Linked DNA regions of Homo sapiens: region 1 is linked to region 2. A link means that fine-mapping ties the variant in region 2 to the expression of a gene that starts in the linked region. Tissue or cell type: whole blood. Region 2 holds a variant in brackets; the other region holds the start of a gene. All regions are shown on one strand. Distances are between the middles of the regions.

Evidence for each region. PIP is the estimated chance that this variant, and not a neighbour inherited with it, causes the effect.
Region 1: PTGR2 starts here. The variant in region 2 is fine-mapped to the expression of PTGR2 in whole blood (TOPMed, PIP above 0.99).

The regions. Positions count from the first base shown.
Region 1 is chr14:73,849,024-73,854,023 of GRCh38, forward strand. It overlaps PTGR2 (prostaglandin reductase 2), which reads left to right and starts at 2,808. Exons shown (of 10, transcript NM_001146154.2): 1 at 2,808-2,920. RefSeq lists a silencer at 2,542-2,944 and an enhancer at 2,554-2,603.
Region 2 is chr14:73,911,006-73,919,526 of GRCh38, forward strand. All of the region lies in intron 8 of ZNF410 (zinc finger protein 410), which reads left to right. Among named protein-coding and RNA genes, the nearest start is that of ZNF410, 28 kb to the left of the region's middle. The variant C/T (reference allele first, on the strand shown) is at 4,171.

The DNA.
Region 1 (5,000 bases), 64 kb before region 2:
CCTCCTGGGCTCAAGTGATCCTCACACCTCAGTCTGTCAAGCAGCTGAGACAACAGGCACACACATCACACCAGGCTAATTTTTAAAATTTTTTGTAGAGGTGGGTTTTGCCATGTTGCCTAGGCTGGTGTTGAACTCCTGGGCTCAATCGATCTTCCTACCTCTTGGCCTACCAAAGTTCTGGGATTACAGGTTTGAGCCACAGTGCCTGGCTTTTTTTTTTTTTTTTTTTCTTTTTTTGAGACAAAGTCTTACTCTGGCACCTAGGGTGGAATGTAGTGATGAGATCATAGCTAGCTGCAACTTGGAATTCCTGGGTTTAAGCGATCCTCCTGCCTCAGCCTCATGAGTAGCTGCTGGGACTGCAGGTGTGTGCCACCACACCTGGCTATTTTTTTTCTTTTTGTTTTTTTTTTTGGTTGTTGTTTGTTTTTTGTAGAGATAGGGGTCTCCTATGTTGCCCAGGCTGGTCTGAAACTTCTGGCCTCAAGTGATCCTCCTGTCTCGCCTCCCTAAGTGCTGGAATTATGAGTGTGAGCCACTGCACCTGGCCTATATTTATCATGCTTGAATGAAACAATATATACTATGTATTTTTTTTTGATAAGATGGAGATGAGAAGAATTGACACTTCCTTCTAGTGAAGTCTAGAAAATGATTCTCAGGGCTGGGCGTGGTGGCTCATGCCTTTAATCCCAGCACTTTGGGAGGCCAAGGCAGGTGGATCACCTGAGGTCAGGAGTTTGAGACCAGCCTGGCCGACATGATGAAACCCCATTTCTACTAAAAATACAAAAATTAGCTGGGTGTGGTGGCATGCACCTGTAGTTCCAGCTACTCAGTAGGCTCAATTGCTTGAACCCGGGAGGCAGAGGTTGCAGTAGGCCGAGATCGTGCCACTGCACTCCAGCCTGGGCGACAGAGAGAGACTCCGTCTCAAAAAAAAAAAAAAAAAAAAAGAAAAGAAAAAAGAAAAAAAAGAAAATGATTCTCAGGAATTGCTTGAACGATGAGAAGGAGGCAGTACAAAGTTCTGCAAAGAGGGAGGAGTAGGGAATTCCAGATTTATGGCAAATATAACAAAGGGTCAGGTGCTTGGACTCAGGCAGGATAACTTGCTCCTTTACTTATTAGTTACTTAACCTGACTTAGAACTTAACTAGCTTAACTTCGGTTTCCTCATTCGTAAAATGGTAATAATAATAATAGGGCTGTTTTGAAAATTAAATCATGTAGGCAAAAAATCATATAAGGCATTATCCAACTCAAACTACGCATTATGTAAATGATAGTAATCCTTGGTGTTAGAGAAAATTTAGAAGAAGAGGATAAACTGGATAGAAATGTACCTATAAATCCTCTACTCATCTCTTGAATTTTTGGGAACTCATTTTGGCGAGAAAAATCACACTTGTTACAAGGAGTTCACAGACCCTAGAATCAAGAGAGCTAAAACTAATTAATACACATACATATATTTAAAATTTTTGAGACAAGGTATCAGTCTGTCACCCAGGCTGGAGTGCAGTGGTGTGATCAAGGCTCGCTGCAGCCTACTGAGCAGCTGAGAGACTACCAGCAAGCACCACCACACCTAGCTAATTTCATTTTATTTTTTATTTTTTGAAGAAATGCGGTTTCACCACGTTGCCCAGGCTGGTCTCGAACTCCTGACTCAAGCAATCCACCTGCCTCTGCCTCCCAAAGGTCTGAGATTACAGGCGTGAGCCACTGCGTCCAGCCCCAAAACTAATTTAATATTGCAGGGCTTCTTTTCTATTTTGAAAGTGTTTCTTTTAAATCAAGTTCTAGATTACCTTTATTTTATACTACTACTTTTTGTCTATTTGAGCATTTTATTTTTCATCATTTGGTTTAAGTCATTACAAAAGGCATTGAAGGTCTGTCTACCTGTCCATGACAGATAAAAGAGATTAGCTCCTGTCTGAAAATGTTTGCAAAGTAGTGTAATTCTCCTAGTCCTTCCTGAAGCTTTCCCAAAGAAGCAAAAATATTCAGACATAAAGCTACCAGGAACTCCAACCTGTTTGATCACTATTCCCTTGCTCACCAACCTAGTCATCTTTCAGCTACTCCATGCATGACTTGTGCTGAGCTATTAGCTCCCACATGAATACAAGCAATTCTTATACCTGCCTAATTCAGATGATCTTTCTTAGGGTTTGAAGTCCCTGGGGATCCGAAGCTGTCCTAGGTATACACTTCTCTCAACCCAGTCCAGCACAAAAGGAGACGACTAACGATGAATGAAATTGAGAAATCAGCCCACACTGGTAATCTTGGAGGAATTTGGTATTCTTCGTGAAATAAAAGAGGCGCAAAGGGGCCCTGGATTAGGGTCCGGAGAGAGGGGTTTTATCCCAGCACTGCCCCTAACCAGCTGAAAGGTAGGTGGTCCAATCACATCAGCTCTCCGAGACTCAGTTTCCCCATCTATAAAACAAGGAGTAGGCTTGACGGTCCCTGTCTCACTATAATTTCCCAATCGAGGTTCAGGGAGAAATCCACAAAACTAATAAAACTTCTTCACGGACTGCTAAATGTGAACTCACTGGTCAAGGCTGCAAGATTTGCTCTTTGGGTCAAGGCAGTAGGGGCGGCCACAAGGAACCAATCTCAGTTAAGTTATTAATGCACTTTGCCCAGACTAGTAACTCTCCCCTGACGTTCCGCATTTCCCTTGCTTCTCCCGGAAACGTGGGGCGCCCAGGAATCCTAAACTTCCAATCCCTAAGCTTCCAAACCCCGCCCCTGGGAGGGGAGGGGGCGCGGAGCCGGGCCTAGTCGCGCGCCTGCGTACTGCGGTCAGAGGGCCGAGGCCTGGGGGCGAGCTGGGGTCGTGCAGTACAGCCTCTTTCCGGCAAATCACGCGAGATTTCGTTCACCCGGGCTCCACAGGGTCAGTGACGCGCGAGCGGCTCCCGCGACTGTGGCTCCCGAAGCTGCTTCGGGCCCCAGCGGTGAGGAAGAAGACTCTCAACCAGGGTGACTTCTAGGCGTCCTCCCGGAGCTACCGGGGACACTGGCGTTATTGCCCGCAACACTGAGATAGGGAATGCTCGAGAAACAGAAGCAGGTTTTGGGGTTTTTTTTGAATTACTGGGGGAAAGCAACCTGAGGTTTTGACGTAATTGTGTTTGAGGTGCCTCTGAAACTTTCATTTAACACAGATTTGTTGAGCACGTACCATGCGCCGGGCATAGGGGATTGGACTCACATTTTTTTGTGTGTGTGACGGAGTCTCGCTCTGTCTGTCGCCCAGGTTGGAGTGCAGTGGCGCGATCTCGGCTCACTGCAGCCTCCATCTCTCGGGTTCAAGCGATTCTCCTGCCTCAGCCTCCCGAGTAGCTGGGATTACTACTGCGCCCGGATAATTTTTTGTATTTTTGGTAGAGACGAGATTTCACCGTGTTAGCCAGGATGGTCTTGATCTCCTGACCTCGTGATCTGCCTGCCTCGGCCTCTCAGAGTGCTGGGATTACAGGCGTGAGCCATCGCGCCCGGCCTGGATTCACATCATTGAACAAAGCAGACGAGTCCTTATCCTCTTAGCGCTGACGAGCTGGGCAGTTAGTTTGAAATTCTGGGCTAGAGACGCAAATTATTATTAATTTCCATATAAAGTGGTTGGTAGGAGGAGCCACAGGGCTCAGGGAGGTCACTGAGAAAGGGAAGAGCAAGATAGGAATCTCCACATGCAAGACTTCGGGAGGGGAAGGGGGAGACCAGAAAACCGGAAGGGGAGGAGAAGACTGGCAGAGAGATCCAGAAAGACACGTGGTTTGTTTGTTTGTTTTTTGAGACAAAGTCTCGCTCTGTTGCCCAGGCTGGAGTGTCCTGGCTGGATCTCGGCTCACTGCAGCCTCAGTCTCCTGGGTTCAGGCAGTTCTCCAGCTTCAGCCTCCTGTGTAGCTGGGACTATAGGCGCCCACCACCACGCTTAATTTTTGTATTTTTAGTAGAGCGGGGTTTTCCCATGTTGGCCAGACTGGTCTCGAATTCCTGGCCTCAAGTGAGCCTCCCACCTCAGCCTCCCAAAGTGCTGGAATTACAGGTGTGAGCCACGGCTCTGGGCCCAGAAAGATACGTTTTATAACAAGGCGTGGTCAACAGGGTTGCTAGTGGCAGAATAATCGCACGAAATAAGGGTATTAAAAGGTATTAGGAAGCTCATGTGATGGAAATAGCAGGTGCCGTGTTGGAGTATGGGTTCTAGCGTTATTACAAGTTGGGCGACTCTGGGCGAATTATTCTCTTTCTGTACCTCTTTTTTCTTCTCTTTTTTCTTTTTTTTTGAGATGGAGTTTCGCTCTTGTCGCCCATGCTGGAGTGCAATGGCGTGATCTCGGCTCACTGCAACCTCCACCTCCCGGTTTAAAGCGATTCCCCAGCCTCAGCCTCCAGAGTAGCTGGGATTACAGGCGCCCGCCACCACGCCGGGCTGATTTTTGTATTTTTAGTAGAGGTGGGGTTTCGCCGTTTTGTCGGAGCTGGTCTCAAACTCCTGACCTCAAGTGATCTGCCCACCTCAGCTTCCCAAAGTGCTGGGATTACAGGCCTGAGCCACCATACCCGGCCCCTTTTCTCATCTATAAAATTGAGAGGATGATATTACCAACCTCACAGTTTTTTTGGGGTGAGGGTGGGGGAGGTGGTTTAAACAGGCTAGTGAATGAGTCTGTGCTCAGTTCCTGGCATTTAGGAATATTAAGGAAACAGGTTGAGAGAAGGGACTTTTTCCAAGTTCCCACCTGGTTAGAACTAGGAGAAGTACTCTGTTCTTCCTACTTAAATGACCTTTCCCTTTTACCAGGCTGCAAGGTAAACACTCAACACACTCTATCATCACATCGGAGCAAATTCGTCTGTTATTATTTTGGAATATTAGCACCAAGTAGGAATAGTATCCCAGGCAAATAGGATTTGCTGAGTTTTTTTCCCCTACTTGGGATGAATTTAACAATCTACCCTTCTTTCAG
Region 2 (8,521 bases):
GTTTGTTGGAGGTGAGAAAATTCCTGGCACACAACAGCTTTTTAGAATTTGTTGATTGAACCAATTAGAATGAATAAAAGGATTGCTAAGTAACAGTGAATGAGGACATAGCTGAGAGTAAGTAGCATAACTTTTTTTAGTAGACCTGTTCAGATTTTATTACTTTTCTCTGCTACTGCTTAACAGTTTAAAAGCTGGGTACTGGAGAAAATAGGTGATGGAGGTTAATCAGAGCAGAGGCTTGCTGAGGAAGAGATGAACTCAAGGAGGAGAGGGATTCTAGAATGGAATCAGGTCATTGTTGAATGACTGGCCGTGGGAAACAAGGGGAAGCCAGAACATGACAAGTGGAGAGGAGGAACTGGAAAGTTACTTATGAGGAAAGCAAGCTACTGCAGCAGGAGCAAGGAAGTTGGAGAGTTATAAACAATCAGGGATGTACATTTCAGAGTTGAGATCTTAGAAGTAGAGCAGTTTTTTAATATGATGACAAGTTCTAAGCAGAGGTGGCAAACTGGTATCCTGTAGGCTAGATGTGGACTTCAGATGTGTTTTGCTTGGATTGTAGAGCGTTTTTATTTTACTTTACTGTGTCAGATTATGTGAAAGATTCACCAAAGTAGAGAAATTTTTTTTTATATAGCAACAGTGGTGTTATACCTGTCAAAATTAATATTTCCTTGGTTTTATCTTATAACCAATCCATGTTCAGTTTTTTCTACTTGTTTCGAAAATGTCTTTTAAAGTTGGTTTGTTTAAATCAGGATCCAACAAGATCCAATATTATATTTGGTTATTAAGTCTTTAAAAATCTAGATCTTTCTACATTGAGTTGTTGTTGTTGTTGTTGTTTGTTTGTTTTTTTCATAGAGTTGTTGCAAAACAGAGTCAGTTGACTCCTATAGAATAGCCCACATTCTGGATATATTGGTTTGCTTCCATTTATGTCATTTAACTTGTTTCTCTACGTTTCCTATAAATGTAAGTAAGCTCTAAAAGCTTCAAAGTTTGGAAGTTTTGGGCAAGAATATGTCAGAGATGGTTCTGTGTGCTTCGTTTTGTGTCACATCAGGAAGCTCACAGTGCTTGGTTGTCAAAATTGATCCATGGGTTCAGCTGGCCTGATCCCTGTATTATAAGGTTCCCTATGAACCTTTCACTTTCTTTTTTTTTTTTTTTTTTTTGAGACAGTATTACTCTGTTGTCCAGGCGAGAGTGCAGTGGCGTGATCTTGGCTCACTGCAGCCTCCGCCTCCTGGGTTCAAGCAATTCTCCCGTCTCAGCCACCCGAGTAGCTGGTATTACAGGCGCGTGCCACCACGCCCGACTAATTTTTGTATTTTTACTAGAGACGGTTTCACCATGTGGCCAGGCTGGTCTTGAACTCCTGACCTCAAGTGCTCTGCCTGCCTTGGCCTCCCGAAGTGCTGGGATTACAGGCACGTGCCACCACACCCAGCCAACCTTTCACCTTTTGATTTCATTCCTAAATGATACCTGAATCTCTTATTTCATAAAGGATTGTAAAATGGTGGTTTTTCTTATTCCTTTACTCCTTTCACATTAGTTGGAATTCTTCTGTACTGTGCGACTCTTTAGTTGGACTCTTCCACTAATATCAAGTAGGGCTATTTGATCATTTGCATAGGCAAGACAGGATAAATATGTAATTCTTTTAATTGTGAATTTTGAGAATAAGGAATTGATGCTCTAGTTACTTCTAGTATTTCATGTTTGATGCTATTTCAAATGAAATGTTTTCTTGATTTTATTTTTGAGTTGTTCATTGGTAGTATATAGAAATACAATTGAATTTTGTACATTGATCTTGCAACCTTGGTAAATGCTTGAGTTTTAGTAGTTTCTTTTTTTTTTTTCTTCCAGCTTTTTAGTTCAGGGGTACATGTGTAGGATGTGCAGGTTTGTTACCTAGGTAAAGGTGTCCCATGGTGGTTTACTGCACAGATCATCCCATCACCTAGATATTAAGCCCAGCATCCATTAGCTATTCATCCTGATGTTCTCCCCCTCCTCCTACACCCCATTTTTTTTTTTCTTTTCTGTTTATTTTTTTAGAGACAAAGTCTCACTCTATTGCCCAGGCTAGAGTGCAGTGGCACCATCATAGCTCACTGAAGCCTTTGAACTCCTGGGAACAAGTGATCTTCCCACCTCAGCCTCCCCAGTAGCTGGGACTGAGGCAGAAATTTAAAAATAAATATGCATTCATTCACTCCAAGAAAAGTAACAGGCAAGGCAAGGGTTAAAAAGAAAAGAACAAGTTTTCCTCTGCCTAGCAAGCTCACTTCAAGGACAGTTATAAGATAACGCTGTTTGAGAAGCCAAGGCCAAAGGAATGGACTCCAGACACCCCCTCTTCCAGAGCAAGGTTGAAGGAAAAAAAAAGGAAAGACAAATTCCTTTACTGTTACTCCTTTCCCTGGCTTCTTAAGCATAACTGTGTTTTGCAAATGTCTGTATTTAGCCAGTTCTTATTTTTCTTTCAATGCAGCTATAAGGTCACCAGCTATGCAAGGCCACAAGTTATGCTATGCTATAAAGTATGTGACCTGTCATGATTAACTGCTTTTGTTTTACTTTTGTAAGTCCGCTTACAAAAACCCCACTCCGTCTTTGTTTAATGCTCAGCTTTTTGGATGTGAATCCACTGAGCTGGTGCGTACCTAAAATAAACAATCCTCCTGTTCTCCGTATCAGTCTCTCCAGTCCTCAGTTTCCTGCAATAGGACTACAGGCTCACACCACCACATCTAGCTAATTTCTATTATTTTGTAGAAATGGAGTCTTTGTGTTGCCTGGGCTCGTCCTGAACTCCTGGCCTCAAGTGGTATTCCCACCTTGGCCTCCCAAAATGTTGTTGGGATTACAGGCATGAGCCACCACACTTGGCTGAGTTTTAGTAGTTTTTAAAAAATAGATTTCTTAGTGTTTTCTACATAAAAGATCATGTCATCTGAGAGTAAAGATAGTTTTGCTTCTGCCTTTCCAAGCTAGATGCCTTTAATTTCCTTTCTTTCTTGCTTTTTTTTGAGACATGGTCTCCCTCTGTTGCTCAGGTTGGAGTGCAGTGGCATGATCATGGTTCACTGCAGCCTTGACCTGGGCTTGGGCAGTCCTTCCACATCAGTCTCCCGAGGCTGGGACTACAGGCACATGCCCAGCTTTTTTTTTGAGTCTCGCTGTGTTGCCCAGGCTGGAATACAGTGGCGCAATCTCAGCTCACTGCAACCTCCACCTCCCAGGTTCAAGTGATTCTCCTGGCTCAGCCTCCCAAGTAGCTGGGATTACAGGCATACACCACCACACCCAGCTAATTTTTGTATTTTTGGTAGGGACGGGTTTTCACCATGTTGGCCAGGCTAGTCTTGAACTCCTGACCTCAAGTGATCTGCCCGCCTTGGCCTCCCAAAGTGCTGGGATTACAGGCATGAGCCACCGTGCCTGGCCCCCAGCTAGTTTTTTCAAAAAATTGTTATAGAGACAGGGTCTTGCCATATTGCCCAGGCTGGTTTCACACTCCTGGGATCAAGCAGTCTTCCTGTCTCAGCCTTCCAATGTCGGGATGACAGGCATGAGCCACTGCACCTGGCCTTAATTTCCTTTTTTTTTTTTTTTTTTTGGAGACTGAGTCTCCCACTGTCACCCAGGCTGGAGTGCAATGGCGTAATCTGGGCTCACTGCAGCCTCTGCCTCCCGGGTTCAAGAGATTCTATTGCCTCAGCCTCCTGAGAAGCTGGGATTACACGCGTGAGCCACCATACCCGGATAATTTTGTATTTTTAGTAGAGACAGTGTTTCAGCATGTTGGCCAGGCTGGTCTTGAACTCCTGATCTCAGGTAATCCACCTGCCTTGGCCTCCCAAAGTGCTGAGATTACAGGCATGAGCCACAGTGCCCGGCCTACTTTCTTTTTCTGGCTAGAACCTTGAGTACAATGTTGAATAGAAGTGGTGAGGCCGGGCGCAGTGGCTCACACCTGCAATCCCAGCACTTTGGGAGGCCGAGTCAGGCAGATCACCTGAGGCCAGGAGTTCTAGACCAGCCTGGCCAACGTGGTGAAACCCCATCTCTACTAAAAATACAAAATTATCCAGGTGTGGTAGCTCATGACTGTAATCCCAGCTATTCAGGTGGCTGAGGCATGAGAAT[C/T]GCTTAAACCCAGGAGGTGGAGGTTGCAGTGAGTCGAGATCGCGCCACTGCACTCTAGCCTGGGTGATAGAGCGAGAATCTGTCTCAAAAAAAAAAAAAGTGGTGAGAGTACGTATCCTTGTCTTTTTCCCAGTCTTAGGGGAAAAGCATGTATTCTTTCATGATTAATTTTTTTTTTTTAAGACAAAGTCTTACTCTGTTGCCCAGGCTGGAGTGCAGTGGTGTGATCTTGGCTCACTGCAACCTCTGCCTCCTGAGTTCAAGCGATTCTCCTGCCTCAGCCTTCCGAGTAGTGGGGATTATAGGCGCTCGCCACCATGCCTGGCTAATTTTTGTTTTTTTTAGTAGAGATGGGGTTTCACCATGTTGGTCAGGCTGGTTCCGAACTTCTGACCTGAAATGATCCACCTGCCTCAGCCTCCCAAAGTGCTGGGATTACAGGTGTGAGCCACTGCACCTGGCCTTTCATGATTAAATTTGATGTTAGCTGTAGTTTTTTCATAGATGCCCTTTATCAGATGAAGGAATTTACCTTCTCTTCCTAGTATGTTGAGAATTTTTATTATGAATGGGTATTGGATCTTGTCAAACACCTTCGTGTGTCTGTTGAGATGATCTTGTTTTTGTACTGTATGCTACTAATTTTACTGCTAGTAGTTGGTTTTTGGATGTAAAACCAACTTTGTGTTTCTAGGGTAAATCCCATTTGGTCAGGGTGTATAGTCCTATTTATGTGGTGCTAGACTTGGTTTTGTCATAATTTGTTAAGAATTTTTACAGCTGGCTGGATGTGGTGGCTCATGCCTGTAATCTCAGCACTTTGGGAGGCCAAGGCAGGAGGATTGCTTGGGCCTAGGAGTTCTGGACCAGCCTGGGCAGCATAGGGAGACCTGTCCTCTACAAAAAATAATAAATCAGTAAGAGAGAGGGAGGGAGGGAAGGAAGGAAGGATGAGAGGAAGGGAGAGATAGAGAAGGAGGGCGGGAGAGTGGAAAGGAAGGAGGAAAAGGAGTCTGGATGTTCATGAGCGATATTGGTCTGTAATGTTTTCTTGTGATATCTTTAGCTTTTCTATGAGGGTAATTATACTGGCCTCCCTGGTTCAAGTGATTCTCATGCCACAGTTTCTTGAGCAGCTGGCACTACAGGCGTCCACCACCAATGTCTTGTTAATGTTTGCATATTTTTTAGTAGAGATGGGGTTTTGCCTTGTTAGGCTGGTCTTGAACTCTTGGCCTCCAGTGATTCACTTGCCTTGGCTTCCCAAAGTACTGGGATTATAGGTACGAGCCACCGTGCCTGGCCTGGTTGTTATTTTTGGAGCTTCTCATGCTGTATTTATGCTTTTGACATGACCCATTTGTCTTGTTATAGCCTCTCTGCTTTCTAACACAACAACAGTTCCCAGGCTTACCTTGGACTTGGAATCAGCTATTCCTCCATGGAGTCCTGGTTCCTTATAGTTGGAACCACAGTCTGGGTGCCATGTGCCCGTTGCTGTTAGGTTGTCATCGTTGGCAGGGCGCAGTGGTTTATGCCTGTAATCTTGGCACTTTGGGAGGCTGAGGCGAGCAGATCACTTTAGCCCACGAGTTCGAGACTAGCCTGGGCAACACAGTGAAGCCCCGTTTCTACAAAAAAAAAAAAATACAAAAATTAGCTGGGTGTGGTGGCATACACCTGTAATCCCAGCTACTTGAAAGGCTGAGGCATGAGGATCTCTCGAACCCAGGAGGTGGAGGCTGCAGTGAGCCGAGATGCACCACTGCACTCCAGCCTGGGAAACAGAGCGAGACTGCGTCTCAAAAAAATAAATAAATAAAAAGGTTGTTACTGTTTCTAGAACTTTTCGGTGGAAAGAACTAAAGACATATTTTTGAAAAGAAAATAATTGGTTCATGTTGATAATTCCAATTTAAATTTTCACATTAAACAATTTTCAGGGGATTTTTTTGTACTTTATTTTTTTCTTACATCGAAAATCTTGGTTCATAACATTAATACAATATTGTTTCAAAATGATAATACCAATATTATCAATTTGTCTACAGAATGAAGTTTAAGACTTTTGGAGCTGTGGTTCTTAGAATAATACTATGTTTAAATACCCTTTAAATCATTGTTTTAATATATCACCAGCTTGATATGTAGATTTGCTTCAGTTTCTTTTTCAAAAAGCCTTGATTATAGGTGTGTCTCTTTACCATGTTCCCTCCCTCCTTCTCTTATAGGTATAAACACTTTTTATTTCCTATTTGGTTTACTTTTCCAGTGGTTCTTTTTGCATATACAAGCAAATGCAGGTTATTTAAGTTGAGATATAGTTCACATACCATAAGATTCATCTCAAAAAAGTGTGCAGTCCGGCCGGGCATGGTGACTCATGCCTGTAATCCCAGCATTTTGGGAGGCCGAGGTGGGTGGATCACCTGAGGTCAGGAGTTCAAAACCAGCCTGGCCAACATGGTGAAACCCCATCTCTACTAAAAATACAAAAATTAGCTGGGTGTGGTGGCATGTGCCTGTAATCCCAACTACTCAGGAGGCTGAGGTGCAAGAATCACTTGAACCTGGGAGGGGGAGGTTGCAGTGAACCGAGATCATGCCACTGCACTCCAGCCTGGGTGACAGAGTGAGACTCCATCTAAAATATAAAAAGAAGAAAAGGGTGCAACTAAGTGATTTTTAGTAGTAATATAATTATCCCTTGTTATCTGTGGTGTATAGGTTCCAGGACCCCACAGATACCAAAATCCACAAATACTCAAGTCTCTTACATAAAATGGCATGGTATTTGCATATAACCTACACATATCCTCCCATATGCTTTAAATCATCTCTAGATTACTGATAGTACCTAATACAACGTAAATGCTATGTGAATAGTTATGCTATATTGGTTATTTGTATTTTTTATTGCTATATTGTTATTTTTTATTTATTTATTTTTTTAGATGGAGTCTCGCTCTGTTGCCCAGGCTGGAGTGCAGTGGTCCACGATCTTGGCTCAATGAAACTTCCACCTCCTGGGTTCAAGTGATGCTCCTGCCTCAGCCTCCCAAGTAGCTGAGATTACAGGCATGTGCCTGGCTAATTTTTATATTTTTAGTAGAGACAGGGTTTCACCATGTTGGCCAGGTCTTGGAACTCCTGACCTCAAGTGATCTACCTGCCTTGGCCTCCCAAAGTACTAGGATTACAGGCATGAGCCACTGCGCCTGGCCTGTTATTTTTTATTTTTATTTTTTCTGAATATTTTTTATCTGCTTGGTTGAATCAATGGATGTGGATGGCCAACTATATATTCATAGTTTTACAGTTTTCTCTACTGTCCGACTCCACAACATTTCATCATCCCAAAAAGGATCCCCATATCCAGGAGATGATTAAAAAAAGAAAAAGAAGTCCCATTATTAGTATCATTGACCATGTCTCTCTTTCTCCAGCCCCTGGCAACCATTAATCTGCTTTCTGTGTCTGGATTTGCCTGTTCTGGACATTTCATATGGCCTTTTTTTTTTTTTTTTTTTTTTTTTTTTCCCCTAAACGGAGTCTTGCTGTCTCCCAGGCTGGAGTGCAGTGGCGTGATGTCGGCTCACTGCAAGCTCTGCCTCCTCGGTTCACGCCATTCTTCTGCCTCAGCGTACCGAGTAGCTGGGACTACAGGCGCCCGCCACCACGCCCGGCTACCTTTTTGTATTTTTAGTAGAGATGGGGTTTCACCGTGTTAGCCAGGATGGTCTTGATCTCCTGACCTCGTGATCCTCCCGCCTCAGCCTCCCAAAGTGCCTGGATTACAGGAGTAAGCCACCGTGCCCGGCCTTTTTTTTTTTTTTTTTTTTTTTTTTTTTTGACAGAGTCTCACTCTGGCTCAGGCTAGAGTGCAGTGGCATGATCTTGGCTCACTGCAACTTCCACCTCCTGGGTTCAAGCAATTCTCCTGCCTCAACCTCCCAAGCAGCTGGGATTATATGCGCCCGCCACCACGCCTAGCTAATTTTTGTAGAGATGCGGTTTCACTATGTTGGCCGGGCTGGTCTTGATCTCCTGACCTCAAGTAATCTGCCCGCCTCGGCCTCCCAAAGTGCTGGGATTACATGTGTGAACCACTGCACCTGGCTAAAATAAATTTATTTTAGATTCAGGGGGTACATGTGCAGGTTTGTTACAAGGGTATATTCCAAGATGCTGAAGTTTGGGCTACTAATGACCCTGTTGACCAAGCAGTGAACATAGTACCTGATAGGTAGTTTTTCAGCCCTTGCCCCGTAGCCGCTTTTGGAATCCCCAGTGTTTATTGTTCCCATCTTTGTGTCCATAAGTACCCAGTGTTTAGCTCCCGCTTATAAGT